Linked DNA regions of Homo sapiens. The protein of the gene in region 5 purifies or fractionates together with the protein of the main gene of each other region. This does not show direct contact. Each region holds a gene or a part of one and is shown on either strand. Other genes may lie near its edges. The genes, in order: CWF19L1, ARHGAP4, RALY, LSP1, FMNL1, CAP1 and TMPO.

Region 1 (4,150 bases), on a different chromosome or scaffold from region 5:
CTCCACCTCCGCCTCCCGGGTTCAAGTGATTCTCCTGCCTCAGCCTCCCAAGTAGCTGGGACTACAGGTGACCGCCACCATGCCCAGTTAATTTTTCTATTTTTAGTAGAGATGGGGTTTCATCATGTTGGCCAGGATGGTCTCAACCTCTTGACCTCGTGAACTGCCCACCTCGACCTCCCAAGGTGCTAGGATTACAGGTGTGAGCCACCACGCCCAGCCTACTTTATTAGTTCCTTAACCCCCTGCAATCAGTTTCCCTCTCCCATCACTCTCTTAAAGGTCACCCTATATTTGCCAATGTTCTCCTGAAACTATGTTATCTTCAGTAGATTCCATGAAGTTGACAATATCTTTACCTCTCAAACAGTCCTCTAAGCACTTTTATGTCTTTGTTCCTACCCCCTAGATGAAGATATACCATCCCCACCCACCAAGGTACTATCATCAACCTGCTTCCCTTCTGATTGTATTTCTTCCTTAATAATTTGATCCTCTTCTCAGCTCTATTTTTCATCATTATGGGACCAACTCTCCAAAGCCTATACTCTTCAACACTGATACTCTAGAAAGAACTCTCGGACCAGCACAGTGGCTAATGCCTGTAATCCCAGAACTTTGGGAGGCTGAGGCAGCTGGATCACCTCAGGTCAGGATTTCGAGACCAGCCTGACCAACATGGTGAAACCCTGTCTCTACTAAAAAATACAAAATTAGCCGGGCATGGTGGCACACACCCGTAACCCCAGCTACTCAGGAGGCTGAGGCAGAAGAATCGCTTGAATCCGGGAGGCAGAGGTTGCAGTGAGCCAAGACTATGCCATTGCAATTCAGTCTGGGCAACAAGAGCGAAAGTCCATCTCAAAAAATAATAATAATAACTCTCACTTCCAACTATATGTTGGATGTCCTACCAGTATTTCAAGCTCACTATCACATGTTCACTACCAAGTTCACTGCTTGATCCTCCTACTGGATCCAAAAAATCTATTTCACAGAAATAACCCAAGTACCTTAGCTGCTCTTTCCTTTCCTGGCACTAAATTCATATAGTAAAATGGCTGCCAAATATCTACAGTAATGCCCTTAATCCAAATCTACAAACTATACCAAGAACTGCATAAGTCAGGCTCATGTTAAAATCTACAACAGAATTTCAAAATGCGTATCTGATATGTGTAGTTAAAACTAAACAGTGCTCACTTCAGCAGCACATATACTAAAACTGGAAAGATAAAGAGAATATTAGCACGGCACCTGCACAAGGATGACATGCAAATTCATGAAGAGTTCCATATTAAAACAACAAAACAAATAAAGTCCTTCCTTCAATTTTTGCTTAAAGAAGTCCCACAGGATTAGTGCAAAATAAGACTGGTAACGGGAGGGCCATAGCCAAATAAAGACTAAAGGCCAAGATGAACTATGATGGGGAAGGAGAGAGAGGACATTTACAGCAAAGGAAATGAAGAAGTTTTCTAGAGAAATAAGACCAACAAGGAGGAAATGTGAAGAATAGTAAATTCAACTAAAAAAAAAAAAAAAAGCCGAGCACAGTGGCTCACACCTGTAATCCCAGCACTTTGGGAGGCTGAGGCAGGCGGGTCACCAGGTCAGGAGATCGAGACCATCCTGGCCAACATGGTGAAATCCCGTCTCTACTAAAAATACAAAAATTAGCTGGGTATGGTAGTGCGTGCCTGTAATCCCAGCTACTCGGAAGGCTGAGGCAGGAGAATCACTTGAACCAGGGAGTCGGATGTTGCAGTAAGCCGAGATCATGCCACTGCACTCCAGCCTGAGCAACAGAGCAAGACACTGTCTTAAAAAAAAAAAAAAAAAAGAGTTGAATGATCTAAGAGGCAGCAGACTGCCAGCAGGTGGGGGGAAAACAAAAGCAAAATTTGACAGTGCTTTTGAAAACAGCCAGACATTGAAAGAGCCACTAAAAGCAATACAGAGGGCTGTGGAGGAAACAACTTTAAGCTGGAACTGAAGAGTGTACCTAGAACCAGAAAAAGGAGAGTAAAAAAAGAGTAAAAAGCCCCCAAAGAACAGCACTAAAAACCTGAGTTGCCAAAACCTTAGAGTGAAACCTAGAGCTATAAATAGTTGGGAGGCTCATTAACAAGTAAGCTGTATATACCTAGCAAGATTGTATGGTAAAGCCACATACATGAAATTTCCTTTGTGTGAACATAATTTATACCTTAAGTATCCCATATACTATAGACAAGGAGTTTATCCCTCCAGTTGGCTAAACAAGTGTGTACCGGGTTGTGGGAACGCAACGATATTGGGGCTAAGTGGTAGAAATAATAAAGAAAAAATGCCACTGTCCTAAAGGCATTGTCCTAAGGGCACAGCAGCACATATACAGACTCTGGGAAAAAACCCTCCAAACCCCATTATCTCAGGCTGCAATCACTGAAAAATCTAGCCAAAAATTTCCTGGGAGACTAATTCCTGAGAACACTATATTATGTTCATTACAAATACAACAAATATCGGCCAGGCGCGGTGGCTCACGCCTGTAATCCCAGCACTCTGGGAGGCCGAGGTGGGCGGATCACGAGGTAAGGAGATCGAGATGATCCTGACTAACACGGTGAAACCCTGTCTCTACTAAAAATATAAAAAAAATTAGCCGGGTATGGTCACACACGCCTGTAATCCAAGCTACTCAGGAGGCTGAGGCAGGAGAATCACTTGAACCCGGGAGGTGGAGGTTACAGTGAGCCAAGATTGCGCCACTGCACTCCAGCCTGGGTGACAGAGCAAGACTCCGTCTCAAAAACAAAAAACAAAAAACAAAAAAAAAATACAACAAGTATCAGCTTACCCAGATAAGTAATGTTTTCAGCTAATTCACATCCATCAGCATCCTGGAAATATTTTACTGTTTCCTGGTTATTAGCACCAAGCACATATGTCTGAATAGGAGCTAGTGAGGGAAACAGACATGACACCATATAGTTACCAGATCTGCTTTAGAACTTAAGATATGCCTCTCTATAGAAAAAATACTTATATTAAAAGTAAATAGTCCATGCATTCACATTCCCCATATTTAGCAATCCTAAATGTGGAACAGCTATCCACTAAGGATATACTACACCCAACCTTGTAGCTTGGCTATTTTATTTATTTTATTTTTTTTTTTTTGAGACAGAGCCTTGCTCTGTCGCCCAGGGTGAAGTGCAGTGGTGCAATCTCGGCTCACTGCAATCTCCGCCTCCCAGGTTCAAGCAATTCTCCTGCCTCAGTCTCCCGAGGAGCTGGGATTACAGGCATGCGCCACCATGCCCTGCTAATTTTTATATTTTTAGTAGACACACGGTTTCACCATGTTGGCCAGGCTGGTCTTGAACCCCTGACCTCAGGTGATCCACATGCCTCGGCCTCCCAAAGTGCGGGGATTACAGGTGTGAGCCACTGCGCCGGATAGTCTTAATAATGAAAAGCAACTTAAATTCTTAAATACTGAAAATAACTCTTAAATTCTTAAATAATGAAAAACAACTCTGCAAGAACTCTGGCCCTTGAAATTTTATTAGAAATCATATGTTAAATAAAAATAATTTCTATACCTTTCTTGATGCCAGTCTTATACTCCTCCCATTCAGCATCTTGGGTGGAGCCAAAGAAATTTCCTACACACAACAGCAGCTAAAATGAGTTTTTTAAACAGATATATGAGATTTTAAAATATCAAACAGTACATAATTGATAGTAATATTCAACTAGTTATTTAATAGTTTCAAATCAGTTTTTAATTCTTAATCAATTTGCAGATTTCAATATACAATTCTTTAGCAGCAACTGTTAACAGTTACTGATTCTATGAATTATTAAGTTTTGGCTCTTTGGCTGTCAAATTCAAGTTAGAGATGGGTAAGAGAGAGTCAAGGAACTAAACTTTTAAAGTAAGTTAGAATTCAAGTGCTCCTCAAATTCCCAGTCCCACTCTGCCATTCATGGCTCTCTCCACATATCCTTCCCTGGAATATACAGTCACATAGAAATAGATCTTTAAAGAATCCCCGTGTGAAACAAAAAAACTTAAAATATTAGAATCTGAGAAATACAAGGTATAAAAAACACATTTCCTGCCTGTTGTCTTTACCCAACCTTTAACCCAATGAACAAA
Region 2 (4,150 bases), on a different chromosome or scaffold from region 5:
GACAAAATCAAGAACTTCTTCCGAGCCACAAAATCATCCCTCCATCCTGGCTAATGTAAGTGACTGTCACTTCCTTGCATCACTTCAGCCTCCATCACTGTCTCTTTCTAGATAAGATTAATCAAGACATCCAATCATACAATTACCCTGCTTCCAGAAGGCATCCAATCCAGGACCAAGCCCCACTTACCTGGGCCCTCCCCCAGATCCCCTAAGGCAAGCCCAAGTCCTCTAAGGCCTTTCCACTACCCTCTCACTGAGAGGCCCCAGGCTCCCCACGGAGCAGGGCTCCCTCCAGCAATGGAGATTATAGGGCTGTTCCTGCTAGGCTTTGGCTGGAGGGTGTGGAACTAAAACCAGGTAGTTCCAAGGAAATCCACACAGCAGAGTGAGCCCCCAGCCCTCTCACCCCCTCTCCTCCCTAGACAGGGTCAGAAGAGTTTCTACTGGGGAAACTGGCCGGGCCAGGAGGAAACACCACAGACACCCACATTTGTGGGGTATGTGTTCAGGCCTCTTCTTAAATATGAACTGATGGCCAAGAATCACCAAACAGACACGATCAGCAGAAAACTAACTATTTGCTCTCTGGAAAGGATATAGCAGGGATTTTGGACTCACGAACAAAAGCAAGAAAATAGAGCAAATGCAGGAACAGGAGAAAACAAAAAACATTTCAGGCCGGGCATGGTGGCTCACGCCTGTAATCCCAGCACTTTGGGAGGCTGAGGCAAGCAGATCACCTGAAGTCAGGAGTTCGAGACAAGCCTGGCCAACATGGTGAAACCCTGTCTCTACTAAAAAATAAAAATAAAAGGGTCGGGCACGGTGGCCCACACCTGTAATCCCAGCACTTTGGGAGGCCGAGGCAGGCGGATCACCTGAGGTCAGGAGTTCAAGACCAGCCTGGACAATATGGTGAAACCCTGTCTCTACTTAAAATACAAAAATCAGCCAGGCGTGGTGGCGGGCACCTGTAGTCCCAGCTACTCAGGAGGCTGAGGCAGGAGAATTGCTTGAACCTGGGAGGCAGAGGTTGCAGTGAGCCGACATTGCGCCACTGCACTCTAGCCTGGGCGACAGAGAAAGAGTCTGTCTCAAAAAATAAATAAATAAAATAAATTAAATTTAAAAAATTAAAAAATTAGCCAGGTGTGGTGGCAAGTGCCTGTAATTCCAGCTACTCGGGAGGCTGAGGCAGGAGAATCACTTGAACCCAGGAGGCGAAGTTTGCAGTGGGTCAAGATCGTGCCACTGCACTCCAGCCTGGGCGACAAGGGGGAAACTCCATCTCAAAAAAAATAAAAGCTTCAGAAAGATTCAAGAAGTACTGTATTCATGAAATAAGAATAAAGGGTTGGCCGGGCACAGTGGCACACCTGTAATCCCAGCACTTTGGGAGGCCGAGGCAGGCCAATTGCTTGAGCCCAGGAGTTTGAGACCAGCCTGGGCAACATGGTGAAACTCCCTTGCTACAAAATATAGAAAAATTAGCCTGGCGTTGTAGTGCAGGCCTGTAGTCCCAGCTACTTGGGAAGCTGAGATGGGAGGACCAGAAGGTTGCATCTGCAGTGAGCTGAGATCACATCACACCCCTGCACTCCAGCCGAGGGGACAGAGTGAGACCCTGTTTCAAAAACAAAACACAACAAAACAAAACAAAGAATACAGACATTTTCAGATGTGCAAAGTCAGGAAACCCTTGGTGAAGGTGTCACCAAAATAAGGGTATCAAACTAAGAAAGCTGCTGCCGTGGAATCCGGAAACAGAGCACTGGGCAGAAGTGAAGCACTCCAGACTGGAAGGCTCTGGGGGAGGGCGCAGAGGAGAAGGTTGACCTCACAGGTGCCTGGTGTGGAGGACAGTGCTGGGACGAGGTAGCGATCAACTCCTAGCAATGGGCATGTTCTAGCAAGCAGCATTCCTGAGGCAAGAGAGTTATAAATTCCAGAAGAAAAGGAAAAATTGTCCAAGGAAGGACATGTGATCCTAATACAGTACATGGCTCAGCTGCCAACAGTACCTGTTGTCATGGTGATTTAAACATTGAATGTTAATTTAGCCAAAAATTCTGGGATAAGCCCACTGGGAGAACAAGATGCAGGGAAGCGTGTGGTGGCTGTGAGAGATGCTGGTGGCACTGGGTCATCATTGGCCAATGGAAAATGGCTGCTTGACACCGGGAGGTGGGTGGCTGTTTCTGGGGGTGGGAGCTGGGAACGGGAGGGGTGGGTTAGGGAGCAGCTGTGACGCCATCGGAAGCCCTGGTGATGCCGGACTCTTCGTAAAGTTCCAAGTCGGCCCGAAAGGGGCCCAATGTAATCCCAGATCATTGACAATGCCCATCAGGATAAACTGCTGCAGGAAAAACTAGCTCGACGGAGAAGGATAAAGAAGCCCCATTCCATCTTACTGCCAAGTTTGTGTCACGAAATTTAAAAACACAGAGAAACCAGCCTAGAACAATGTATGGGCAGCTACACGGCTGCCTGCTGCACGGTTTGAACAGTTAGTGTCTTGCCCTCCTTGGCCATTGCGGGGGTGCACCCTTGGAGTGAGGCTGCAAATGGAAGTGGGACACTTCTCTAGCTGCCGCACTGCCTGAGACCATGGAGAACTTGGATTCCTGAGCAAAGTGTGGGTCATGCCACTCCACTGCCCACCATTACAGTGAAGGCCAGAGAATGCCAAGCCCAGCAGGGGGTGACCCTCACCTCATCCCCATCATGGGGGTGGTAGTCAAAGCGCAGCGGGGGACAGAAGACGGTAGCATGCACCTCGAGAACCTTGGCTTTGTCCCCTGGAGGATCCAGGGCCTCCACAGCTTCTTCCAGGCTGCCCAGGCCCTGCACTTGGGAGGCTTGGGTGCGGCTCTCAGCGGCCGTGTAGCTCCGGAGCACCTGCCCCAGGGCCAGGTGGAACCCTGTGTCACAGCACTGAGGAGGAAACAAGGAGATGCTTGGGTAGGTCCTGGAGCCACAGCTTCCCAGCCCCGAGGCACCAGGCACCTTTTCCCACCTGCCCACCAAGGACTCACGTCCATGAGGTCCAAGACGTCATGCAGGTAGTAGTTACTGACAGCAGCGTTGACACTAGCCAGGCTAAGCAGGTACTCGTTGCGCGCCTTTGTGCACTTGAGTTTGTGCTCCATGAACTTGGCCTGCCGCTACTCAAGACAATGCAAGCGTGCCAGGGTCACGCACGTGGCCAGCCCCTATCTCTAGCCTTTCATGTAATGCCCATCGCCTCCCCTCCCACTGTGGACAACTACACCTGAACTGGTCAAGCCCAGAAGTCCTGCTGCCTTCCCCACGCCACAGTCCACAGTGTGCTCAGCCCAGTGCCAGGAGGTGACTTGATTCCCCGGCTGTTCACCCGCCACTTGCCTTGGTTCGAGCCACAACATTCCCCACAGAAGTGGGGGATGACACAGAACTATTCACAGATACCTGATGAGTGGAAGGTGCGCACATGGCACCCCACCATGGAGGGTGCACGAGAAACCCAGCTTGGAGCCAGCACACAGGTGCACAGCTGGAAGCGGCCACAGGCCTCTGCGGGGGCCAGAGCTGAGGGGGAACGAGTACCCCAAAGGGTAGGGATAGATCATCAAGAGCCATGAAACAGAACCTGCTGGCACCTGGGTTCTAAAACTGGCACTCTATTTTTTTTTTATTTTTTTTTTTTGAGACAGAGTCTCGCTCTGTCGCCCAGGCTGGAGTACAGTGGTGCAATCTTAGATCACTGCAACCTCCGCCTGCTGTGTTCAAGTGATTCTCCCGCCTCAGCCTCCCAAGTAGCTGGGATGACAGGCACCCGCCATCATGCCCGGCTAATTTTTGTATTTTTAGTAGAGATGGGGTTTCACCATGTTGGCCACACTGATCTTGAACTCCTGACTTCGTGATCCACCCACCTCAGCCTCCCAAAATGCTAGGATTACAGGCGTGAGTCACCGCACCTGGCTAAAGCTGGCACGCTAACCACAGCAGCCAGGGAGACCTTCCCCCAACACAGCCAAACTCTGTCATTTCCCCTAAGAACACCTGAGATGCTCGACTCCCTCCTCTGCTCCCAGAGTCCCAGAGACCATGACTGTCAGCCACGCACAGCCTGGCGGCTCCATCCAGGCATTTCCCAGCCTCCCCA
Region 3 (4,150 bases), on a different chromosome or scaffold from region 5:
GATAGACAATGCCAAGTATTTACAACAACACAGAACAACAGCAATTTTCTCATCACTAACCATGTAACCTGGTAGACCTTTTAAAACTGTTTGGAGGCCGGGCACGGTGGCTCACGCCTGTAATCCCAGCACTTTGGGAGGCGGAGGCGGGCGGATCACGAGGTCAGGAGATCGAGACCATCCCGGCTAAAACGGTGAAACCCTGTCTCTACTAAAAATACAAAAAATTAGCCAGGCGTAGTGGCGGGCGCCTGTAGTCCCAGCTACTTGGGAGGCTGAGGCAGGAGAATGGCGTGAACCCGGGAGGCGGAGCTTGCAGTGAGCCGAGATCCCGCCACTGCACTCCAGCCTGGGCGACAGAGCGAGACTCCGTCTCAAAAAAAAAAAAAAAAAAAAAAACTGTTTGGCATATTTACCAAAGGTAAACATATGCCTAACCTAGGACTTACAGTATGAGGTTAGAGAACACTTACTCACTGTTCCCGCTGAACAGTTCACCTCCAGTCTTTTGCTCCATCATTGCCCCTGTCCAGATGCTTTCATCACACTTTTTCCCAATCCCAGAGACCAGCTGAGATCACTCTCCCTGCTCCCTACAAAGAGATCGATCTCCCCTCTTAAGGAAAATTCTGCCACTTACCTATTACCACTGACAAATGACTGATGGATTCTTCACATATAAATTGTCTCATGTGATTTTACAACGTTCTAATTTGCTCCTCACAATACCATTGTGAGGAAGGCAAGATATGGAGTGTTAACCCCACTTCACAGATGAGAAAATGGAACTTCAAAGAGAGAGAAGATGACATCTCCAGTTTACATGGCCTTATTATTCCAGACCCCACAGGCAATGCTAAATTGTTGGAAGAAATCGGGAGCACAACACAGCATCCCAAGTAATATTTCTCTCTGAAGGGTAGGAAAGAGGGAAGAGCCCTTCAAAACCAGGAGAGCCTCAATGTGCCCACCATTTCCATTTACTAGGGCTCCTTGCTGCAAAGTGTTCAAAGGCGGCTGGCAGTGGCAATGGGCTTCACGAACTACAATATAAACACAATTATCAAATCACAGACTGATCAAATGCCAGAAACCACACCTCAGATAATTCCACCTGCATACAAAATAGAGCTATTTTATTTCAAAATAGAGCATAATAAAACTTAAAATAATTCAACATGAAACTTAATTTTCTTCATTTCTACATAAGAAGCGAGACAATACCAAATCTTCCTGAAGCCAGCCAGAGAACTGTGTGGGTGTCCAGATGCAGATATCTGGACACCTAAACCTGAAAGGAAATGTTGTCCCCTACTCTAATATTCTTGACTTTACACACTGGGTGTTGGACACCTTAGCAACAGAGGATAAATATCTGTAAAAAACAGAAGGGAGAGAAGGGAATGCCAAAAAAATAAAGTCTACACACTGGAAGTCAGATTATCAAACTGGTCTCCTTGTCTACTGATACAGCCACCAATTATGTTATTTTCCGTTTGAACCCTCAATCCAAATATATGAGCCAGGGCGGCAGGCTGGATTTGCTTTACTTATCTGTCTTCCTCTCAAGACTGAAAGTAATTTGTGGACAGGAATTATGTCTTGTTGGTTTTTATGTTTTCCATAAGAAGAACATATAGGAGGTACTCCAAATTCCTGGAACGAATGGTTGAGATTAGGGATGGAAGGCTGTTGGGACTCCCAAGCATAAATAATCATGCCACGGCAACTAAGTAACTTCCTCTGAACCCTAATTTTAGTAAGGGTTGATTTTAATTGGTGTAAGAATCAATTAGGGTGAATCTTTAAAGTCTGAAGAGAAGTTATTCTTGTGCTCAACTGATTCACGCACAGCCCTCATTATTACTTTGGCAGCAGCACCATTCCTCAGTACCACCTTACAGGTATCCGCAAAAACAAAATTCCAAAGCCTTAAATTAATGCTTCAGGTAAAAAGGAAACGACGTGGTCAGGCGCGGCTGCTCACGCCTGTAATCCCAGCACTTTGAGAGGCCGAGGTGGGCAGATCACCAGGTCAGGAGATCGAGACCATCCTGGCGAACACTGTGAAACCCCGTCTCTACTAAAAATACAAAAAAATTAGCCGGGCGTGGTGGTGGGCACCTGCAGTCCCAGCTACTCAGGAGGCTGAGGCAGGAGAATGGCATGAACCCGGGAGGCAGAGCTTGCAGTGAGCGGAGATCATGCCACTGCACTCCAGCCTGAGCAACAGAGCGAGACTCCGTCTCAAAAAAAAAGGAAACAACATTCGATTTCTCAGTATAGTGTGGTCATATCTCTTACCAAAAAAACCCAAATCTAGATAAATGAAGTTATGGAAATGACCCTTTTAAATCTACTGCTGGGCTTGCTTTCACTAACACAAAGAATTTCAAAGGAAACTAGACAAATAGATCAAGAGACACCATGTAAGCAGTACCGTTAACTAAGCTTATTAAAATCCTTAATAAAATAAACAGGAGACAGCTAAATACCAGATAAATGCCTCTGGAATGAAGAAAATCTGGCCAATAACATTAAGCTTCCAAACCTGGCATTCTAAAAGAGAATATTTACTTGGAATAAAGCAATGAGTCTTACCTTGACAAATAACAGAGCTATTCAGTCTCTACAGATGGCACTTCAAGGGCCAGGTAACCTCAGTAGAGGCATCTACTCCATAAGCTAAAGCTCTTAGGAAATGCAAGTTTCTGGTCTAGTGTTTTTCCATTATTACCATTGTGTGAAAATCTTAAAATGTTTTTTATTTTTCCTTTATTATGTGATTTTAAACAGTTTGCTACATATTTTAATGTAATTTTTTTATAGTCTTGGACTCCAAGTTTGTCCCATGAGGCTACAGCTCCAAGTTTATAATGGAACTCAGCATACAATTTGATAAATTCATCTCACAAGCAATTTTTCAGCAATCTGTCCACTCTAAAAAGCAATATCCATCTGTTTATATACTGAAAGGTATCTTTTGTGAACCCAGAATTTAACCCTCTGAGATACTCTCAATACTTTAGCAAAGCCCTTTCTCCTTCCAGAGATAAATTCTCAAGCCACTTCCACAAAACTGTAAAAAGGTAGAAATATCACTCAAGATTATCTAGTCCAATTCCCTTGTTTCACAGACAGGAAGACAGAGATCCCACAGAATATTAGATAATTACAATTAACATGGGTTTGGCAAGCAACAAAAGCCCACTGACTGCTATTTTCCCCAGTCAAACTCATTGGTGTGTTGGGAAGATAGCCAGATTTGCACTTTAGTTAGTAGAGCACTCCCTAGGAAACTCAAGTATGTACCCTCTAAGAAACCCAAGTATTCAGCCACAACCCCCTACCCCAACCCCAGAATAGAGAACAGGGGGCAGTGGATGTCTTAAATGGCTCTTCTGGAGATGGAGACTAGAGCCCAGGGACAATATCCCATCTTTCCTTCCTTCCTCCCAGGAGGTACAGGACATTGATTACCATGAAAGCCATTATGAAATGACAGAAGACACTAACACTGAGGAAATAAGGCAAGGCTGTGGAAACAAAAGATGACCAACATTAATACTTGGCCAGATACCTGCTTCTACTTATTCGTTCGAAGAGAGGGGAGAAGTGAGAGAGACAGGGACCTCCAACCCTTTTTCTGTCCCTACCTCCCCACCCCCACTCTTTGGGCCTTTATAGAATTTCAGGGACCCCCCCAGATGATTTTATGAGGAAACAGGGCTATAAAAAGAAAGGACCTTAGTCCAGCCCACACACTGACCAAACGATGCTCAGGCTAGTGACAAGACTTCCTATTTATTCCACTGCACTCTGTCTCTATTCCTAAGGGTCTGTGAGCTGCACCCTGAGCACAATTTCCTTACAGTACCCAGGGGGAAGTTGTAGGACAAGCAGGTTAACATTACGGCTGTCATTTTCTCCCTTCCAGCTATATAGACATGAAGCCAAAATTGAATAAGACCAAGACACTCAAGTGAAAACCTTGCTATCTCCACCCCTACTATATCCCCTCACCAATGCCAAACTAAGAAGGGGGAGAAGAAGAAAGAAATACCTCTCCTAGAGATATATTATCTAAACCACCACCTAGAATCATAAAATGTAATTGCTAGAAGGGACCTTATGGGTCATCTAGTCATTA
Region 4 (4,150 bases), on a different chromosome or scaffold from region 5:
TGCCTGGGCTCTAGCCCCTATCCGTGTACCCTGGGGCCTGGGCAGAGGGGGAGGTCAAGGGCCTGGGCTTGGGGGTTCCAGTGCAGGATGAGAGCGAGGAAGGGCCCCCAGGAGCAGGCGTGGGAGTGGGTGAGTGCTCCTGGGGCGAGGGTGGCCACAGCCCTAGAGGAGGGTCTGCCAATACCTGGCTGCCTCCTGGGCGCTGACCCAGGCTCTGTGTCCGTGCCCTGGCCCTTGCTCGGACCGCCTCTGACCCCAGCCACGCAGCCTGGCCGAGCCCCCCACCAGACTCCCCCGCCAGTGACTCACAGAGCCACGTCCAACTTGGCGGCCAGGCTGGCTTGCTTCCTCCTTGGGCCCAGGAGGCCTCCGCGGCTGGGCTGGGCTGTTTTTCCAATAATGCTTCCCTTCCTTCTGGCCTCTTTTGTTCCATTTTCTCCAAGTCAGCAGCCTTGGGCAGAGTGGGGTTCAGCGGTCACCATAGTCAGGCCCTTGGCCACCCCCACCAAGGGCCCCAGCTATCCAGGGGCTCCCCCTGCCACATGGGAGGCCTGAGAAGTCGGGGCTTAGGAGGACCTCATGTAGGGTCCTCATGTGGGGACCAGGGCAGCCCTTGGGGAGCCCCAGGATGATGGGGGAGGCACAGCCCTGCCCTAGGGAGCCCCAGACTGATGGGGGAAGCACAGCCCTGCTGTTAGGGAGCCACAGGCTGACGGGGGAGGCCCAGCCCTGCCCTAGCGAGTCCCAGAGTGATGGGGGAGGCACAGCCCTGCTCTTAGGGAGCCACAGGCTGACAGGGGAGGCACAGCCCTGTCCTCAGGGAGCCCTACACTGATCGAAGAGGCACAGCCTTACCCTCAGGGAGCCCCAAACTGATGAGGGAGGCATAGCCCTGCCCTCAGGTAGCCCCAGGCTGATGGAGGAGGCATAGCCCTGCTGAGCCTCAAGGAGTCCTGGACTGATGGAGGAAGCACAGTTCTCAGGCTGCCCCAGAACTGACGGGGGAGGCATAGCCCTGCCCTCAGGTATTCTGACCACAGGAGACACAGCCCAGAGCCAGCTCTGTGGCAGACAGGGTCTCCCACACTTGGAGTCCAGGGCCTGAGCGGGCGCCGTGAGGTGAGTGTGGGCCCTGGGCAGAGGAGGCAGCAGCCGCCCAGGCCTAAGCTCCCCCCTGCTACCCTCAGCCTCAGCCTGAAGCCCTCGGAGGCCCCTGAACTGGATGAGGACGAGGGCTTTGGCGACTGGTCCCAGAGGCCAGAGCAGCGGCAGCAGCACGAGGGGGCGCAGGGCGCCTTGGACAGCGGAGAGCCCCCCCAGTGCAGGAGTCCTGAGGGGGAGCAAGAGGACAGGTGAGTGAGGGCCTCGAGGGCGGGCGCTGGGCAGAGCAGGGCTCCCTCTGGACCTCGAGGGCGGGCGCTGGGCAGAGCAGGGCTCCCTCTGGACCTCGAGGGCGGGCGCTGGGCAGAGCAGGGCACCGCGGAGCTCCCTTCAGGCCCTCAACCTGCGCCTGAGCAGCCACCCCATCCTCCCCTTTCCAAGCAGAGCCTGAAATGCCCCCATGGCCAGGAAAGGGGGAGACAGGAGGGGAGGGAGGAAGAGGGCGAGACAGCATGGTGGCCGGCGAGGGGCCGCGAGGAAACCTCATTCTGGGGCTCCCCAGGGCCCCTGGGCCCCATCCAGGCAGCTGCGAGGCCAGGCCGGGTGCTGCCACATCAGCACACAGCTGCGGCCGCTTCCGTAATGGAGGCTGAGAGCCCGCCGCCGCCCCTTCCTCCCTCGGGGCTGGCTGATCTCCATTCCCACGGAGGGGAGCAGGTATTTCCAGATGTGCATGCCGGAGAGTCGGCCGGGAGGACGCACTTTCCAGATGTGGGGATGTGTGTGCCTGTCTCAACCCCAACAGGCCCAACAGGGGCTGCTCCCGAGCCCCACTTCACTACCCCTGCTCGGGGTCCTTGCCGCTCTCAGTCATCTGTGGCCATGATGGGGCTGACCCCACCCGCCCTGCAGGGCCTGGGCCATCTGGGACCCCAGCCCTGCTCAGGACCCCCTTGCCTTGAGTGGGACCAGAGCCCATGGCTGGGCTGACAGTTCTCCCTGGTCAGGGTCCTTCCTGGCCCCTCTGAGGCCCTAAACCAGCCTGGAGCTCTAGGGACCAGTGTTGCTGAGCGACGCTCCCTTGTCCTCCTACAACCAGGCTCCCACTCCCCAAGAACCACTGGTCCTGGCCTGGCGCAGTGCCCACCGCCCCCCTCCCTGGGCCTCAGTCTCCCCCCTACGTGCTTGGGAGTCAGCGGCTCTGCTTTTCTGAGATGGGGCAGCTCCCTTCTCCCTTGGCCTCAGGCCTAGGCGGGCGAGGCTGCTCCCACCAGCAGGGGGCGCTTTGACTCTTCCGTGGAGCCCAGCTCTGCGGCCGCCACCCCACCCCCTGCACCTGCCTGGCTGCACAGACCTGCTCCTGAATGGCCCCTCTGTGTGGCTGCTGCTGGCTCAGACCCCTGCCCACCTTGGGCGGGTGGGTCTGGGTCTTGGCTGGCACGCACACCCAGGGGCCTGAAATCATGGAAAATTCGAGAATTTCCCATCTTCTCCTCCAGGTTCAGTCCTGCTCAAATGCAGAGCCGCTCAAAGCTGCCAGCTGGCTGGCCTCCCCTCCCCCGCAGCCGGCAGCCCCTTGGCCCTGCTCCTCAGTGACCTGGCCCCTACCCCTGCCTAGCCCTCCAAATGACCCAGCCTCCAGTCCCCCAAACACCCAAGGGCCCCCACAGGGAGCAGAGCAGGAGTGGTGGCCCCAGCAGCCCGGCCTCGCGGGGACCCCGTCAGACCAACCGGGTGTGCAAGCAGCTGCCAAGCTGAGGCCCAGCCACAAAGCTGGGGATTGAACCCAGCCTCAGTGCCTGGGGGACCCTCAGTCTGTAGAGCCCTGTCTGGCAGGGACTGGGCAGTTCCCCAGGGGCCTCAGGCCCTGACACAGGGGCCCAAGCAGACTGCGCTGGCTCTGAGGCCACTGGACCTTCTTTCCCAATGGGCTTGGGTCTCAGATCCCTTGGCACTCAAGTAGCCTGACTACCTTCATTTTACAGATGGGGAAACTGAGGCTTGGAAAAAGGAAGGGGTCAACCAAGCAATCCAATGGCCCTAGAACGGCTTTGCCTCCCTTTCCACCCACAGGCCCGGCCTGCATGCCTACGAAAAGGAGGACAGTGATGAAGTCCACCTGGAGGAGTTGAGTCTGAGCAAGGAGGGGCCAGGCCCAGAGGACACTGTCCAGGACAACCTGGGGGCCGCAGGGGCTGAGGAGGAACAGGAGGAGGTGATGGCTCCACCTCAGAGGGTCTGGGTGTACCCCCACCCCAGGGATGAGTCTGCCTTGGCTGTCTGCACCACTCTGTGGGCCCTGTGGGTCTAGCCCAGAGTGGGTCAGCACCCCACACCCCTAGACCTTGCAGCCCCTTCTGGGCCCACATTCTCAGAGAGGGCAAGGCTCAGTGATCCTCTTGCAAGATCCGGAGACATCTCTCCAGACTCCTCAGTCCCTCCCCACCAGCTCCAGAACTGGAGCACGTCAGGGCCACAGAGAACCTGGGGCTCAGGAAGGAACAGCATTTGTTCCCACAGGTGCTGGGCAGGGCAGGAGGGGCACAAGCAGGGGGTCACTTGGGATGTCTGTTTTTTTTTTTCTAGCACCAGAAATGTCAGCAGCCCAGGACACCCAGCCCCTTGGTCTTGGAGGGGACCATCGAACAGAGCTCGCCTCCCCTGAGCCCTACCACCAAAGTAAGTTAAGCTGCAAAGCCTGCCATCTTCTCCCCTCTCCCGTACTCATACCCAAAAGGCCAATCCCACATGCCAGCCACAGGAAGACCAGGCCCAGGCCTGGCTTTTGTCTGCTATCCCCCCATTGCCCGGTGCTCAGCGAACCCCCATGATATAAGGGTTGGGGGTTGGATTAGTGGTTGGAGTAGCTGGGGAGATGGAGGGTGGGCTTTACCTCGGCTGCTGCAGGCCTGTGTCTCTCTCCACCCTCTGCAGCTCATCGACAGGACCGAGTCCCTAAACCGCTCCATAGAGAAGAGGTCTGTCTGTCTGTCTGTCTGCTTTCTGGGCTCAGATCTTAGGTTTAACCAAGTGGGGGTTGAAGGGAGTC
Region 5 (4,150 bases):
CATTTACTGGATAAGTCACTTAATCTCCCTATCCCTCACTTTCCTCGCTTCTAGAATAGGAATGCTAATAATAGTAGCTTCCTGTCAGGGTTGTTGGGACTATGGAATAGGCTTAGAACAGTGCCTGGCACATAGTAAGTGCTATATGACTGTACTCCCTTATTCTTCGCCAACAAATGTGTGATGTTTTCATTGTTGCAGAACTGCCGACCGGGACTTCCACATGTCAGTCTCTCTGATGATTCTATCACATTCCCAGTAATACCAGGAGGCCCCGCCTTCACCCCCTCCTGCCACATCACCCTTTCTTGTCATTGTGCTAATATGTCAGAGTTTTTGTTCATGCTGTTCCTTCTGCCTGGAATGCTCTTCCCTGTTCCCATGGCTGCCTGTAAAGCCTGTATCTGTCTGTAAGACACAGTTCCAGCGTCACCTTTTCTGGGAAGCCTTCCTGATGTCCCAAGTGGTGGCCACCTCCCTTCTCAGAGCTCCCAGGCACACTTCCATGACAGCCTGTCACACTAAATTGTCCCCCACTTAGACTGTGGGCCCCTGAGGGCAGGGTGACCTGTCTCCTGGGCACCTGCCATATACCTAATACATACTAAGTGTTAAAAAAATGTTTGCTGAATGCATAATTGCATGAATGGACAAATAACATATTGTGAAAGTTTGAGGCTTAATATGCAATCAATCCTCTAGACCCAAAGCAGGAAGCTAGGGATTCACAAGATGCTCTAGGGTCCATCTACTGCCTGCTTCCTGCCTCCCAGCAAGATGCCCGTGTTAGGATGGAGGAACCCAGCCACAGCACTGAACCCAGGGACATCAGTTGAATACCTCATCCTAACCCACCACCACCCTGGGAGGGAGTCAGCCAGGCATGCACCTGCCCCTAGATGGCTACGTACCGGGGAGAAGGGGGACACCTGGAGGCCGCATGGGAGAAAACAGGGGATTAGATGCATACAAGAGGGGTCCCACCAACCCAGAAACTCCCTTCTTATCCCAGACCCATCCAGACTCCAACTTCTAGGTGCCCACCCCGATGGCTTCTTTTTTCTTTTCTTTTCTTTTTTTTTTTTTTTTTTTTTTTTGAGACAGGGTCTCACTCTGTCACCCAGGCTGCAGTGCAGTGGTGCGATCTCAGCTCACTGCAACCTCCATCCCCTGGGCTCCAGCGATTCTCCCACCTCAGCTTCCTGAGTAGCTAGGATTACAGGCGTGCACCACCACACCCGGCTAATTTTTGTATTTTAGTAGAGATGGGGTTTCACCATGTTAGCCAGGCTGGTCTCAAACTCATGTCCTCAAATGATCTGCCCACCTCAGTCTCCCAAAGTGCTGGGATTACAGGCATGAGCCACAGCACCCAGCCCCACCCCTGATGGCTTCTTAACATACTGGTGTCCCAAACTCTGTATGAGTCCCTTACTCGGACCCCTAATGCATGGCTACCCCTCTCGCCAACCCCAAGGGCCCGGGGTGGGCTGGCTAGATGCAGCAGTGTGGGGGCTGAATTCTCTGTTCTCCCACCACCCCACTTTGTGGCCCACATACTTGATGGTCAGGTGGCGGCTTTTGGGCACGGAGGAGGGTGGACCCTTGCTGAGGTCTTCCACAGACTGCTCCAGGGGCTTGTTTTTCTCTGAGTTGGAAGCCCCGTTGTCTGTGCTCTCCATGTCATACCTGGGGACAGGATGCAATGGGGCTGGAGGCCAACACTGCAGGGGCCACTTAAGAGGGGGCAGAGGAAACGCAAGGAGAGACAGACCTGCAGGTGAGACTAAGGAGCAGGAGGAGGAGGCTGTGTTCTTGGCACTGTGCTGAACATAGTGGTGGAAGAGAGGCCACCCCTCCCTGTCGGGGGCAGGCCTTCTGGAAGGAGCATCGCTCAAGGCCAAGTGGAGGGTTCCAGGGTAGGCTCGGGCTGCCTGGCTTGAAACTGGCCAGGGGAGTGGGTGAGATGCAGGGAGACGGGGATCAAAGCTCTGAGGAGCGGCATGAGGGCTGGGAGCAGGGGGCTTACGTGACAGAGCACTGGGCAAAGGCCAGGTACTCGAGCAGCACATCCAGGCCACGGTTCTCTTCATTGAGGAACTCCTGCACCCACCTGTGGGCACAGGGCTCCCTGAGCTCCAGCCAGAAAGGAGGTCCTGCCCCACATGGGCACAGAACAGGGACAGCAAGGACCCCTGGGGTGCCCTTTCAACCCCCAAAGACCCAATGATACCAAAGGATTCTGGGAGACTCAGGTGGGTCCCACAGCCCAGCCATGCCTCAAGGTGCCAGTCAGAGCATGGGCAGGAAGGGGAGGGGAAGCTGTCCTGGACACCTCCAGGAGGTGGTCCACAAGCACAGCCTTGTGCAGGGGGCAGGGGGAGTAGGAAGGGGAAGCTCCAGGAGCTGCCTGGAAGCAGAGCCTTCCTAGGCCCAGAGAGGAAGATCTGAGCCCTCACTCACCCAATGTGGTTGGTCCTCAGGGAGGTCTCCAGCTCCCGTAGCACCTGCGTGGACTCCTGAACTCGCCTCTTAAACTGGGGACCGAGAACAGGGAAGGCTGGTGGGTGGAGCCCGGCCTCCCACAGGCCCACCAAGTCCTGAGGCAGCAGGCAGCAGCGCCCACCCTCCTCCAACTGGCACAAGTGGCCTTTCATGCTCAGCCTCCCCCACCACCTCCACACACCTGCCCAGCAGAATAAGAACTCACAGGCTACATGTGCTCCCCCATACATAGACAAGCAGGGTACACACACCCCCGATACATGGGCACACAAGGTATACACATGCACACACACAAAGAGGCAGAGTGTGTGTGCGCACACACACACACAGCACATGAACATCCATATACCTGCACTCTAAATACAGACATAGAATATCCACACATCCATACATGGACACACACACACACACATTCTCTCTCTCTCCTAGATATGGACTCAATGGTACACACACACATCCATAAGTGGACAAAGTACACACATAGTATACACACACACCTATGTATGGACATATGGGCTGCACATGTGTATACACACAGTATAAGTACACAGAATGTGTCCATGTAAGCACACACAGGATGTACAGAGGAATATCTAAAGTGCACACCCAGGGCACTCTCATTCCCCTATAAATACACAGACACACAAACACACACACACACTCATACATGCACCCACACACGCACATAGAAAAGTCTGTACACACAGTTACTCCAGCTGCCCAGAGCTTGGAAAATGTGGGGGAAAGGGACAGAGTAAAGAGGGGAGACATGTACCCCCAGGTTGGACATCCAATCAGCTGCTACCTTTCGGCTGACCCCACCAGTATCCACATAGCTCTTCAGCTTCTGGATGTAGGCTGCGGGGGGATTCTTGACTTGAAACCGCTCCTGGGGAGATGGAATGGGGTGTACAGAAAACCAGCCAGAGCTACCCCAGGGCAAATGACCAGTTCTCGTCCCAGTGTCCCATTCTCAGCTCCGATCTGAGGTCCCAGGCTTTCTTAAGACGCCTCTGAAATACCAAAGGTATAAACCCAAACAGTCCACCAAGCCACTTTCTTTTTTTTTCTTTTCTTTTATCTTTCTCTTTTCTTGCCCTGTGGCCCAGGCTGGAGTGCTGTGGCACGAACATAGTTCACTGGAGCCTCCTACTCCCGGGCTCAAGCGATCCTCCTACCTCAGCCTCCCAGGTAGCTGGGACTACGGGTGTGCACCACCACGCCCAGCTAGCATCGGGCCACTTTAAAAACCCCTGGCCTAGGCCTAGCCTGCCCTTCCTGTATGGGCTCCCAGGCCACAGCCCTGACACAGCTTTGGGGTGGACTATGCAGGGGTCAGTCCTGCCGTAGGCCCCGCCCTGGGGTGGGAAGGAACTCAGTCTAGCCAGCAGGTGGTGCCCTCCCTGGACCAGAGCTGGCATACGGCGGGGAAGGACGGCTGGAGGTGCCTCGTGAAGGGGACCCAGCACCTGGGTAGGACTCGGACCCAGCCGCCCTGCACATCTGCGTTGGCAGGAACCTGCGTGCTCCTCTCCTGTGCTCAGTGATGCAATTCCTAATCCCCCCACCCCACTGCAGGCTCCAGCGGCCACTCACACAAAGAGGCAGGGACCACGGCAAAGACCCCTCCCCAGAGGGGCCCCCA
Region 6 (4,150 bases), on a different chromosome or scaffold from region 5:
TTTCTCAAAAATTGGAGACAGGAGTAAAGGCAAAGGCCTAAATTTCTGCTGAAAATTCTCAAGGTATTTACTCCTTTAGATTAAAGCTATCTCTCAAATGCCAGATACCATGACCCATTAATAAATAATTAAATCAATTTAGTGAGCTTAATGGAACAAAAGTATGAGTGCAGTGCACCAACTTCAAGTTATTTCCAAATAAAAAGTTAAAAAAAAAAAAAGTACAGCAGAAGTAGTATAAATATCATCTTGTGAAACTTTTATCTCAGTTACGAATATGTTCTTTCTTTCTAAGGGTCATTCGCAGTCAAAAGAATTTAAGAAACATGAGACTGTAAGCACTATTAAAATACAAAAATTCAAAGAAAGCAATCTATTTTTTCTGGATTTGCATTTTTAAAATACAAATGATAAATGTTTTAAAGTTTTTTCAAATGTTACAGAACTGTATTAAGTAAAAATGCAAGCCTCCACACCCTTATTAAAGTCCCAGTCCCACTCTCTAGAGCTAAAACCATTGGCAACAGATGGTATTTGAGAGGCTCAAAATAGATTTTCCAAAAGCCAAGCAACCAGTCTTCGAGAAAGGTTTAGGTGAAGAAGTTCCCAAGCATGGTTACTGTTTATAATTCGGTGAGCTAGCAGGAAGGTTTTTGGGTCCCAAAAATAGAGGTAGAATGTATATGTGAGTGTGGGGTGGGGGTGGGGGGTGGTGGTGATGACGTAGGAGGCATAAAGGAAGGTGGGAGGAAAGGCACCTGTCATTGCCTACTTCATATTCTTGCTGTGGGTTAAGTGTGAAAATAACCCACATTAGCATAACTAATAACTATCAAGCATAGTTTTATAAATGCTAAGTCATGATAATGACTCCTTTAAATAAGCCACTGTAGGTTTGATTATGTAATATGTTGGGATCAAACTGGTGCATATTCTTCACTACAAAGATGAACAGAACCATATTTTATGTACCAAGCAAGCTTTCTGTATAAATACGTGATAAAAGCAAGGGGCCTAGAAAAAAATGAGGAATCGTTTCTGTGGCTAGACTGAACTCCTCAGTACAGGCAAAAGAGAAAGAACATGTGTAATGCCCCAAACCAAGAGGAACTTCTCAAGGAGCTCTTAAACCAAGGATGAGGACCTTGGCTGACTGAAGAAAGCTGTTAGTCCTTAAAAGAAGGGGAAAAAGGCAAAACATCCTTACATGTTTCTGCACGTCTCCCCCAATCTCTTTACTGATCTTCAAGTACTCTGCCACAGGACCAGCAAGCAGCGAGTCAAATGCCTGCACATATGGAGCTGCTCCTGCTAAAGACAAACACACCACAAAGAATCAGCCATGCATCAGAAGGAGGCTTCTTTAAAACGTGCTTCTACATGAAAGTGGGGAGGCAAGGTAATACAGTCAACAGGATACAGAACAGGAGTAAGGAAACCTGGGTTCCAGGTCCAGTATCACCACTAACTGGTTGTGTGACCCTGACTAAATTCCTTTTCCTCTCTGAGCTTAATTTTCTTTATCTATAAAATGAAAATAAACAAAATGATCCTCCAAGGTTTTTTTTAGTGCTAACATTCTATGTTCCAACTGGTGCATGTGCAAAATGTCCAATTTGCCAATTGTTTGGAGAGAGGAATTTTATTATCACTTGTCATTTGACTTACATTGGAGTCATTCTGCTAAAGAAAGAGCAGGAAATATTGCACAAGCAGGAAGTTCTTGTGTTAAAATAACTTAACCACAGGCCTCCCTGTACAAGTCATTTCCTCTCTTATCTGTTCACAGCAATACAAATTACAAAAGGTAAACTTTCTAGATTAAGTTTTGGGAAGTTAGCGCCAAAGGAGAGAATAATAGAAAATTTTCAGGCCAAGACGCTCAAAGAAAGCATTCTGCTGGGCTGTGGACTGCTTACCTTTTGAAGGACTGTCTGCATACCCACGGTGCATGTCAGAGGTATGAGATACTGCCTCCAGGCGGCCCACTGCCCTCTCCAATCTTTCTACCAGATTTTGCATGTCAGCCATAATGGACCACCTGCTGAAACAGATCAAATGTCATTTGTTATTTAAATATTAAATAGCACCTACAGAGAAAAAAACAGAAAATTCCTGGTCATCCCCAGGTGGATGAAGAGGATGCCAATTCTCAGGAACAGAATAATTTAATAAAATTAGATATCATCTGCAAAATGGAACAATACAAAAATATCAGATAAAAAAGTAGCATATTTACAAAATCAAAAGACCTCATTAAGCAAGAGAACTGCTCAGGAAAAGGTGTTCACTAAAGTAAATGCTTACTCATTCAAATACTCAATATTTACTATGATACTGTGTGTAGAAAGTTAGAATTTGCAAAGGATAGTCACATACATTATCTCAGTTTGAGCCTCCCGACAACTATTCAGGAATAGAAGGATGATTACTACACGCTTAGAGATAGAAAACTTAGTTTCAGTGAAGCTAAATGACTTGTCTAGTCACACGGCCAGTGAATAGAGAAGCCAGTACTCCATCATATCCTTATCTGATCCTTCTGGTTCTAAGTTCAGTGTGTTTTTTTCCTACAACATCCTGCTGCCTGCATGTGAAATATCCCAAACCAAGATGAATAGGATGTTTACTCTTCCCTCAATAATTTTTTTTTTTTCAGACAAAGTCTTACAATGTCACCCAGGCTGGAGTGCAGTGGCAGGATCTCAGCTCACTGCAAGCTCCACCCTGTTGGGTTCAAGGGATTCTCCTGCCTCCCAAGTAGCTAGGGTTATAGGTGTGCGCCACCATGCCCAGCTAATTTTTTGTAGTTTTAGTAGCGACAGGGTTTCACTGTGTTGGCTAGGATGGTCTTGAACTCTTGACCTCAAGTAATCCACCCGCCTTGGCCTCCCAAAGTGCTAGGATTACAGGCGTGAGCCACTGTGCCCGGCCTGCCCTCAGTAATTTATAGTCTAATGGGGAGACTTAACATATGCACTAACAACTATGAAACAAATAGAAAAAAATGTTAAGGTGACATAAGAAAGTTGCTGATAGAGAGGCATGAGATTTCAAAGAGGGGAGTAATATATCAGCTGGAAGGATCAGATAAGGATATGATGGAGAAGCTGCCATTTGAGCCAGCCTTCAAATGAAGATGAGAAAGATCTGGACATGCAGTAGGGAAGGACACTAGACACATCCAAAAGAATTTGTTATAGATCTTTCACAAGTACTATCTTATCTGAAATAGCCTAATTCAATGTCTAATATCCCAAAGAAAGTAAGCTCCAACAGAGAAAGGACCTTATATAGCTTGTTCCTTACTGTATACTCTACCATCTAGACTACTACCTGGCAGGTAGTAGATGTTCAATAAATATTTATGAAGTTATAAACCTCACAAATAGCATTCCAAAACTCCAGAGGGATAAGGGTGCTAAAAGTTGCCCATAAGTCACACATAAGTGTAAAATATGATCAATGCACCTCTACATAAAGTATTTGAGACCCTAAGTGATCTCATAAAAACCAGTCAGTGAAATTTCAATCCAAGCTTTGACTTGGAAAGATTCCATTTCACAAAAGCGTCAATTCAGGCAACTGAATTCAGTTCAGGTAACTGAAGCTGAATGAACTCAACTCCCTTGAAGCTGCCTAAAATGACAACAGCAATTATGATTCCCCCAAAGATGACAGCATGCCAGAATTATCTCAATTTAACACATTGTCCTCCCTGTGGAAGAGATAAGCAGCTCACAAGATAAAGTAAGGAAGACAATATAGTCTCTGTCCATTCTCTGTGTACAGGCTCTGGTCTCTGTGGGCCCAATCACTTGTCAGAGAGTGTTGTTTAAAAGAGAAGCAAAGAAAAAAAATGAGAATGAGAACCAAACAAACCTTTCCATTCCTTGGCCTGCAGCAGCAGCAGAAGCCTCCAGGTCTATGTCCTACTCTCAAATAGAGCAGACCATAAGCAGTCAACATACTTTCCCTAATGTTATGACACTATCAACTGATATCTGAATTCCTGCCCTGTTCCATTATGCATACTGATCAAGAGACAGACTCACATATATATACAATCCACCACACTGTAAGTCCAGGGGAAAAGGCAAGGAACGCAATAAACTCCTAAGCTACCTTCCATGAACAGATACCACTCAGT
Region 7 (4,150 bases), on a different chromosome or scaffold from region 5:
AATATTTACTGGTGGGCTTAGGGGAATTAAACTGCTCCCAAAAGAACAGTTCGTTCACTTATTTATTTAAAAGTCGGTGGGTAGACAGAGTCTCATTATGTTGCCCAGACTGGTCTCGAACTCCTGGGCTTAAGCAATCCACCTGCCTTAGTCTCTTGAGTAGCTGGGACTACAGGCATGTACCATTGTACCTGGCTCCAAAAAAACAGCTTAATTCTGAGCAGAAGTACAGTAACTTTGTGATGAAGAATTAAAAATAAAGATTCCCTACTAGAATACACTAGTACTTGTTTAAATGTATCTGAATACCTAATTCCTGTTGGTGTAGATGCTTCATAGGGGAACATTTCCTTAAGAATATCCCTTTCTACTCTTCTTTCCTCTGTTTTTTCTCCCACCTAATAAGAAACAGACAAACAAACAACCACAAGTTAAAATTTAGTGTAAACATGCAATAATTAAAACATAAATAGTAAGTTTTAGAGAACAAAATGCCTTTAAATCTATCATAGATTTTACAGCTGCCATTTCTAAATTATTATTTAGGTATCCACATGCTTCCAAGGCTCTCTTCAAATTTCTTGAAGATACCTTATATATGTGGTTATTGGAGTGAAAAACTGCCACACATTTAAATAACTGGGGGGAAAAAATTCAGTAATCTAACATGGCAATGCTAATTCCCTCATTGATTTTGTTTTTTACTATTAAGAGTATATTGTTGGGCCGGGTACGGTGGCTCACGCCTGTAATCCCAGCACTTTGGGAGGCTGAGGCGGGTGGATCACCTGAGGTCAGGAGTTCGAGACCAGCCTGACCAACATAGTGAAATCCCATCTCTACTAAAAATACAAAAATTAGCTGGGCGTGGTGGCGGGCACCCGTAATCCCAGCTACTCAGGAGGCTGAGGCAGGAGAATCGCTTGAACCCAGGAGGCGGAGGTTGCAGTGAGCTGAGACCGTGCCACTGCACTCCAGCCTGGGCAACAGAGCAAGACTCCGTTTCAAAAAAAAAAAAGTATACTGTTTCTTCATTTATTAAGAATTCTGTAGTAAAAGATAAAATACAGAAGATACTTAACATGAACCTTTAGCAAACTTTACTATATGTTTTAAAATTATAGTCAATGCAATATGCCCAAATTAAAAAAAATATAATGTTTAGCTTGTTTTACTGTTTACCTTTATGTCCAGAACAAAATAATAAATGTTTCGGCTCCTTTTGTAAAGATTCATTCAAATTAAAATGCACCATGCAGTTAGTACTTTCAAGCTTAATTACACAGGAGTTAACCCATTCCAGCACCACATGAAGTTATGTTAAAGTCTCTTATTTGACCCGTCAACAAAAGAAAGTGTAGCCTCCCTCATAGCCCAGCAGCACTTTCAAACTTGCATCCATGACAAACAGAACATATTATAAGCAGAACAGAAATGACCACTCCCTTGAAAACTGGAACTTAAGAGGGATACAGTGGCAAGAGGATAGTATTAGCATGTCAAACTATATTAGTTAATTTCTGTTTTCACTAATAAAAGTGTCCTTAAAATAATTTATGCATATTTACACACACCACCCAATAAAGAAAGCTCTGCTCCCTCCCACTCCAAAAAAAAAAAAAAAAAACAAACAAATATTTATATTTCCTCTTTGAAAGATCAATGATAGCATCGATCTAAATTGTATTCATTTACTTCAGCTCTTGTCAATGGTTTCTTTGGTGCTCTTCTGGGTATGTCTGAGAATTCAGTGATTGGCAGAATAGGAGATGCATGCTTGAAATTTCCAGTCACCCTATTGACAACCTGCCAAGATTCAAATTATTCAGACTCAGAATTATCCAAACATAACACAGACACTTAAAAAGAAAAGAAAGATATTTTATCTCTGTAATATTAGAAATTTTCCCTTAGTAAAGATTTAAGCAACACAGCCTACAAACACAACTTAGTGCCTCACATATGAAGCCTCATTCTTCAAATATTTTAACAAAAAATATCCTTATACTTTCTTGTACAATGAATTAGATTTCTTTACATAAATTGGATATTATAGGAAAATTCTAAAATTCAGAACTATATGGGGAAAATCAGTTTAAAATTGTTAAAAAAAAAAAACATGTAAATTTGAGATTTGCCAAAATTCACCACCTCCCCATTTCCAATTAAAGGGTAATTTACAAAGAATACCACTTGTATAGTTTATGAAACATATTTACTAAGGATTCGTTGCTTGAAGCCATTATAGTTTCAGCTATGGGAGTACTCTCTGAAATTACTGGACCATCTATACGAAAATGTTCTGAAGTTTCCACCTGTTAGTTTGAAAACAAAACAAAAACAATAAATATAAAATAATACTAAAACCCTACAAATCTGAAAACCCAAGGAATAAGCCTTGCATCACCCTTTTCCTTGGAGTTCTTCTTGACCCTCTTGTAGATTCCCTAGTTAATGCCTGCAGAGGTCCGCCTTTTGAAGATCCACTTGTCCATTCAGTCTCAGTTATTCCAGCTTGAGAATAGCTCTATTCAAGCATCAACACATTAAAAAGTCATATTCTAACATCAAATACTTTAATAACGGCCATACTGGCACACTGAGAAGCCATGAAATAGAAGTCTCCAAATGCCAGCATTTACAAACAAGGCTATGTCCTCAAAATATTCCTAAATGTATTAATTGAACTGATATTTAGGCATCAGGAAACACTTAAAAAGTGCTAAAATACACTAAAGAATCCACCTATAGTAGCTCACAAATTATAAACATTATGGGAAAAAAAGCACATCAACTATCACCAGTTCCCTTTTTGACTCACTGTGTGCTATTTGGCTCTAGTATTGGAGCTACATCTCTGTCTAAACAAAAAGCAGACTGATCATGACTTAGAAAAAAGTCATCTATTATAAGTCAGTTTCCTTTTAAAACAAAAATACAAACTTTTGTAATTGTTAGCATAAACATTATTATTTTCATATGGTTATAATCATTTTAGTAGAATCAGTTTAAATTATAATCCCACATATAGCTTATTTGAACTAAAAAATTCTCAGGTGTCAAATTTTTCTTGGAAACAGATACAAAATTAGGTAGCCACAAAAACCCTGTGGTCACTCTTTAATGAATATGCAAGCCTAACGTCACTTTCAAATCTCAATGCTATCCATGTCACTACAGAAAGACAGAAAACAGCTGCCTCAGATTAATTCTCAGTCTCAGATTAATTTCTATGTTCCACTGATCATTTTTAAAGAATCCAGCATTTCTTACATACTGGTTTAAAACCCATTAGATCAGTTCTTCTTAAATTGTAATGTGCCTATCAATCACTTGAAGCTTCTGTTAAATGCAGATTCTGATTCTGTAGCTGTAGGGCCCGAAATTCCGCATTCCAAGTAGTTTAAGGTTTTCAGTTTTGAAGTCGCTATTACCAGATGATTCTTTTAAATTCTTTTAACTACAGAACATCCATCAATGATCAGTATTATAGTAGAGTGTCCTTCTGTTGTCACTTTTGCTTTCACGCCAATATTTAACCTAGATTACTGATGGTTTTAGGTCCAAGTCAATGTCTATTAAAGACAGATTTTTTTTTTAAACTTTAATCCTGTGACAGGAGTGGTCATCCAATAAATATGCCTAAATGGCTGGATGTAATACTACCAAAACCCCACAAGTTACAGACATAGTCTCATAAATCATGGTTTTGTATTTATCTATATTTGGAATTGATATTATAAGAGTTTTAAGTCACAATCTGAATCTCTGGGTTCCTCATCCTATCAATTAGGAAGTATTTGCTGAATGCAAAATTATTGTCAAAAGAGAAACTTGTAAACAAATTACAGACATACACAGAGTAACTGCTTTTTAATTTTTATTTTATTTATTTTTTTGAGACAGAATCTCGCTCTGTTGCCCAGGCTGGAGTACAGTGGTGCAATCTCCACTCACCGCAACCTCCACCTGCGAGGTTCAAGTGATTCTCCTGCCTCACCCTCCTGAGTAGCTGGGATTACAGGCACGCACCAGCACACTTGGCTGATTTTTTTGTATTTTCAGTAGAGACAGGGTTTTGCCATGTTGGCCAGGCTGGTCTCCTGACCTCAGGTGATCCACCCACCTGGGCCTCCCAAAGTGCGGGGAT

Evidence for each region.
Region 1: the proteins of FMNL1 (region 5) and CWF19L1 purify together in Homo sapiens (affinity purification with mass spectrometry, with the first as the bait; one large-scale study listed by BioGRID). This does not show direct contact.
Region 2: the proteins of FMNL1 (region 5) and ARHGAP4 purify together in Homo sapiens (affinity purification with mass spectrometry, with the first as the bait; one large-scale study listed by BioGRID). This does not show direct contact.
Region 3: the proteins of FMNL1 (region 5) and RALY purify together in Homo sapiens (affinity purification with mass spectrometry, with the first as the bait; one large-scale study listed by BioGRID). This does not show direct contact.
Region 4: the proteins of FMNL1 (region 5) and LSP1 purify together in Homo sapiens (affinity purification with mass spectrometry, with the first as the bait; one large-scale study listed by BioGRID). This does not show direct contact.
Region 6: the proteins of FMNL1 (region 5) and CAP1 purify together in Homo sapiens (affinity purification with mass spectrometry, with the first as the bait; one large-scale study listed by BioGRID). This does not show direct contact.
Region 7: the proteins of FMNL1 (region 5) and TMPO purify together in Homo sapiens (affinity purification with mass spectrometry, with the first as the bait; one large-scale study listed by BioGRID). This does not show direct contact.

What each region holds. Positions count from the first base shown.
Region 1 is NC_000010.11:100,257,376-100,261,525, forward strand, and holds part of CWF19L1 (CWF19-like protein 1), read right to left. Parts: intron 3,670-4,150; coding exon 3,591-3,669; intron 2,945-3,590; coding exon 2,843-2,944; intron 1-2,842.
Region 2 is NC_000023.11:153,916,117-153,920,266, forward strand, and holds part of ARHGAP4 (rho GTPase-activating protein 4), read right to left. Parts: intron 3,571-4,150; coding exon of another isoform or gene 3,451-3,570; intron 3,168-3,450; coding exon 3,039-3,167; intron 2,938-3,038; coding exon 2,716-2,937; intron 1-2,715. UniProt on the Homo sapiens protein: Inhibitory effect on stress fiber organization. May down-regulate Rho-like GTPase in hematopoietic cells.
Region 3 is NC_000020.11:33,999,884-34,004,033, reverse strand, and holds part of RALY (RNA-binding protein Raly), read right to left. Parts: intron 1-4,150. UniProt on the Homo sapiens protein: RNA-binding protein that acts as a transcriptional cofactor for cholesterol biosynthetic genes in the liver. Binds the lipid-responsive non-coding RNA LeXis and is required for LeXis-mediated effect on cholesterogenesis.
Region 4 is NC_000011.10:1,880,245-1,884,394, forward strand, and holds part of LSP1 (lymphocyte-specific protein 1), read left to right. Parts: intron 1-1,187; coding exon 1,188-1,352; intron 1,353-3,174; coding exon 3,175-3,316; intron 3,317-3,687; coding exon 3,688-3,780; intron 3,781-4,035; coding exon 4,036-4,079; intron 4,080-4,150. UniProt on the Homo sapiens protein: May play a role in mediating neutrophil activation and chemotaxis.
Region 5 is NC_000017.11:45,231,611-45,235,760, reverse strand, and holds part of FMNL1 (formin-like protein 1), read right to left. Parts: intron 3,395-4,150; coding exon 3,281-3,394; intron 2,538-3,280; coding exon 2,464-2,537; intron 2,114-2,463; coding exon 2,030-2,113; intron 1,690-2,029; coding exon 1,561-1,689; intron 1-1,560. UniProt on the Homo sapiens protein: May play a role in the control of cell motility and survival of macrophages. Plays a role in the regulation of cell morphology and cytoskeletal organization. Required in the cortical actin filament dynamics and cell shape.
Region 6 is NC_000001.11:40,057,228-40,061,377, reverse strand, and holds part of CAP1 (adenylyl cyclase-associated protein 1), read right to left. Parts: intron 2,045-4,150; exon of another isoform or gene 2,042-2,044; 5' UTR 2,032-2,041; coding exon 1,920-2,031; intron 1,312-1,919; coding exon 1,208-1,311; intron 1-1,207. UniProt on the Homo sapiens protein: Directly regulates filament dynamics and has been implicated in a number of complex developmental and morphological processes, including mRNA localization and the establishment of cell polarity.
Region 7 is NC_000012.12:98,542,607-98,546,756, reverse strand, and holds part of TMPO (thymopoietin), read right to left. Parts: intron 2,528-4,150; coding exon 2,408-2,527; intron 2,316-2,407; coding exon 2,220-2,315; intron 1,807-2,219; coding exon 1,696-1,806; intron 399-1,695; coding exon 310-398; intron 1-309. UniProt on the Homo sapiens protein: May help direct the assembly of the nuclear lamina and thereby help maintain the structural organization of the nuclear envelope. Possible receptor for attachment of lamin filaments to the inner nuclear membrane.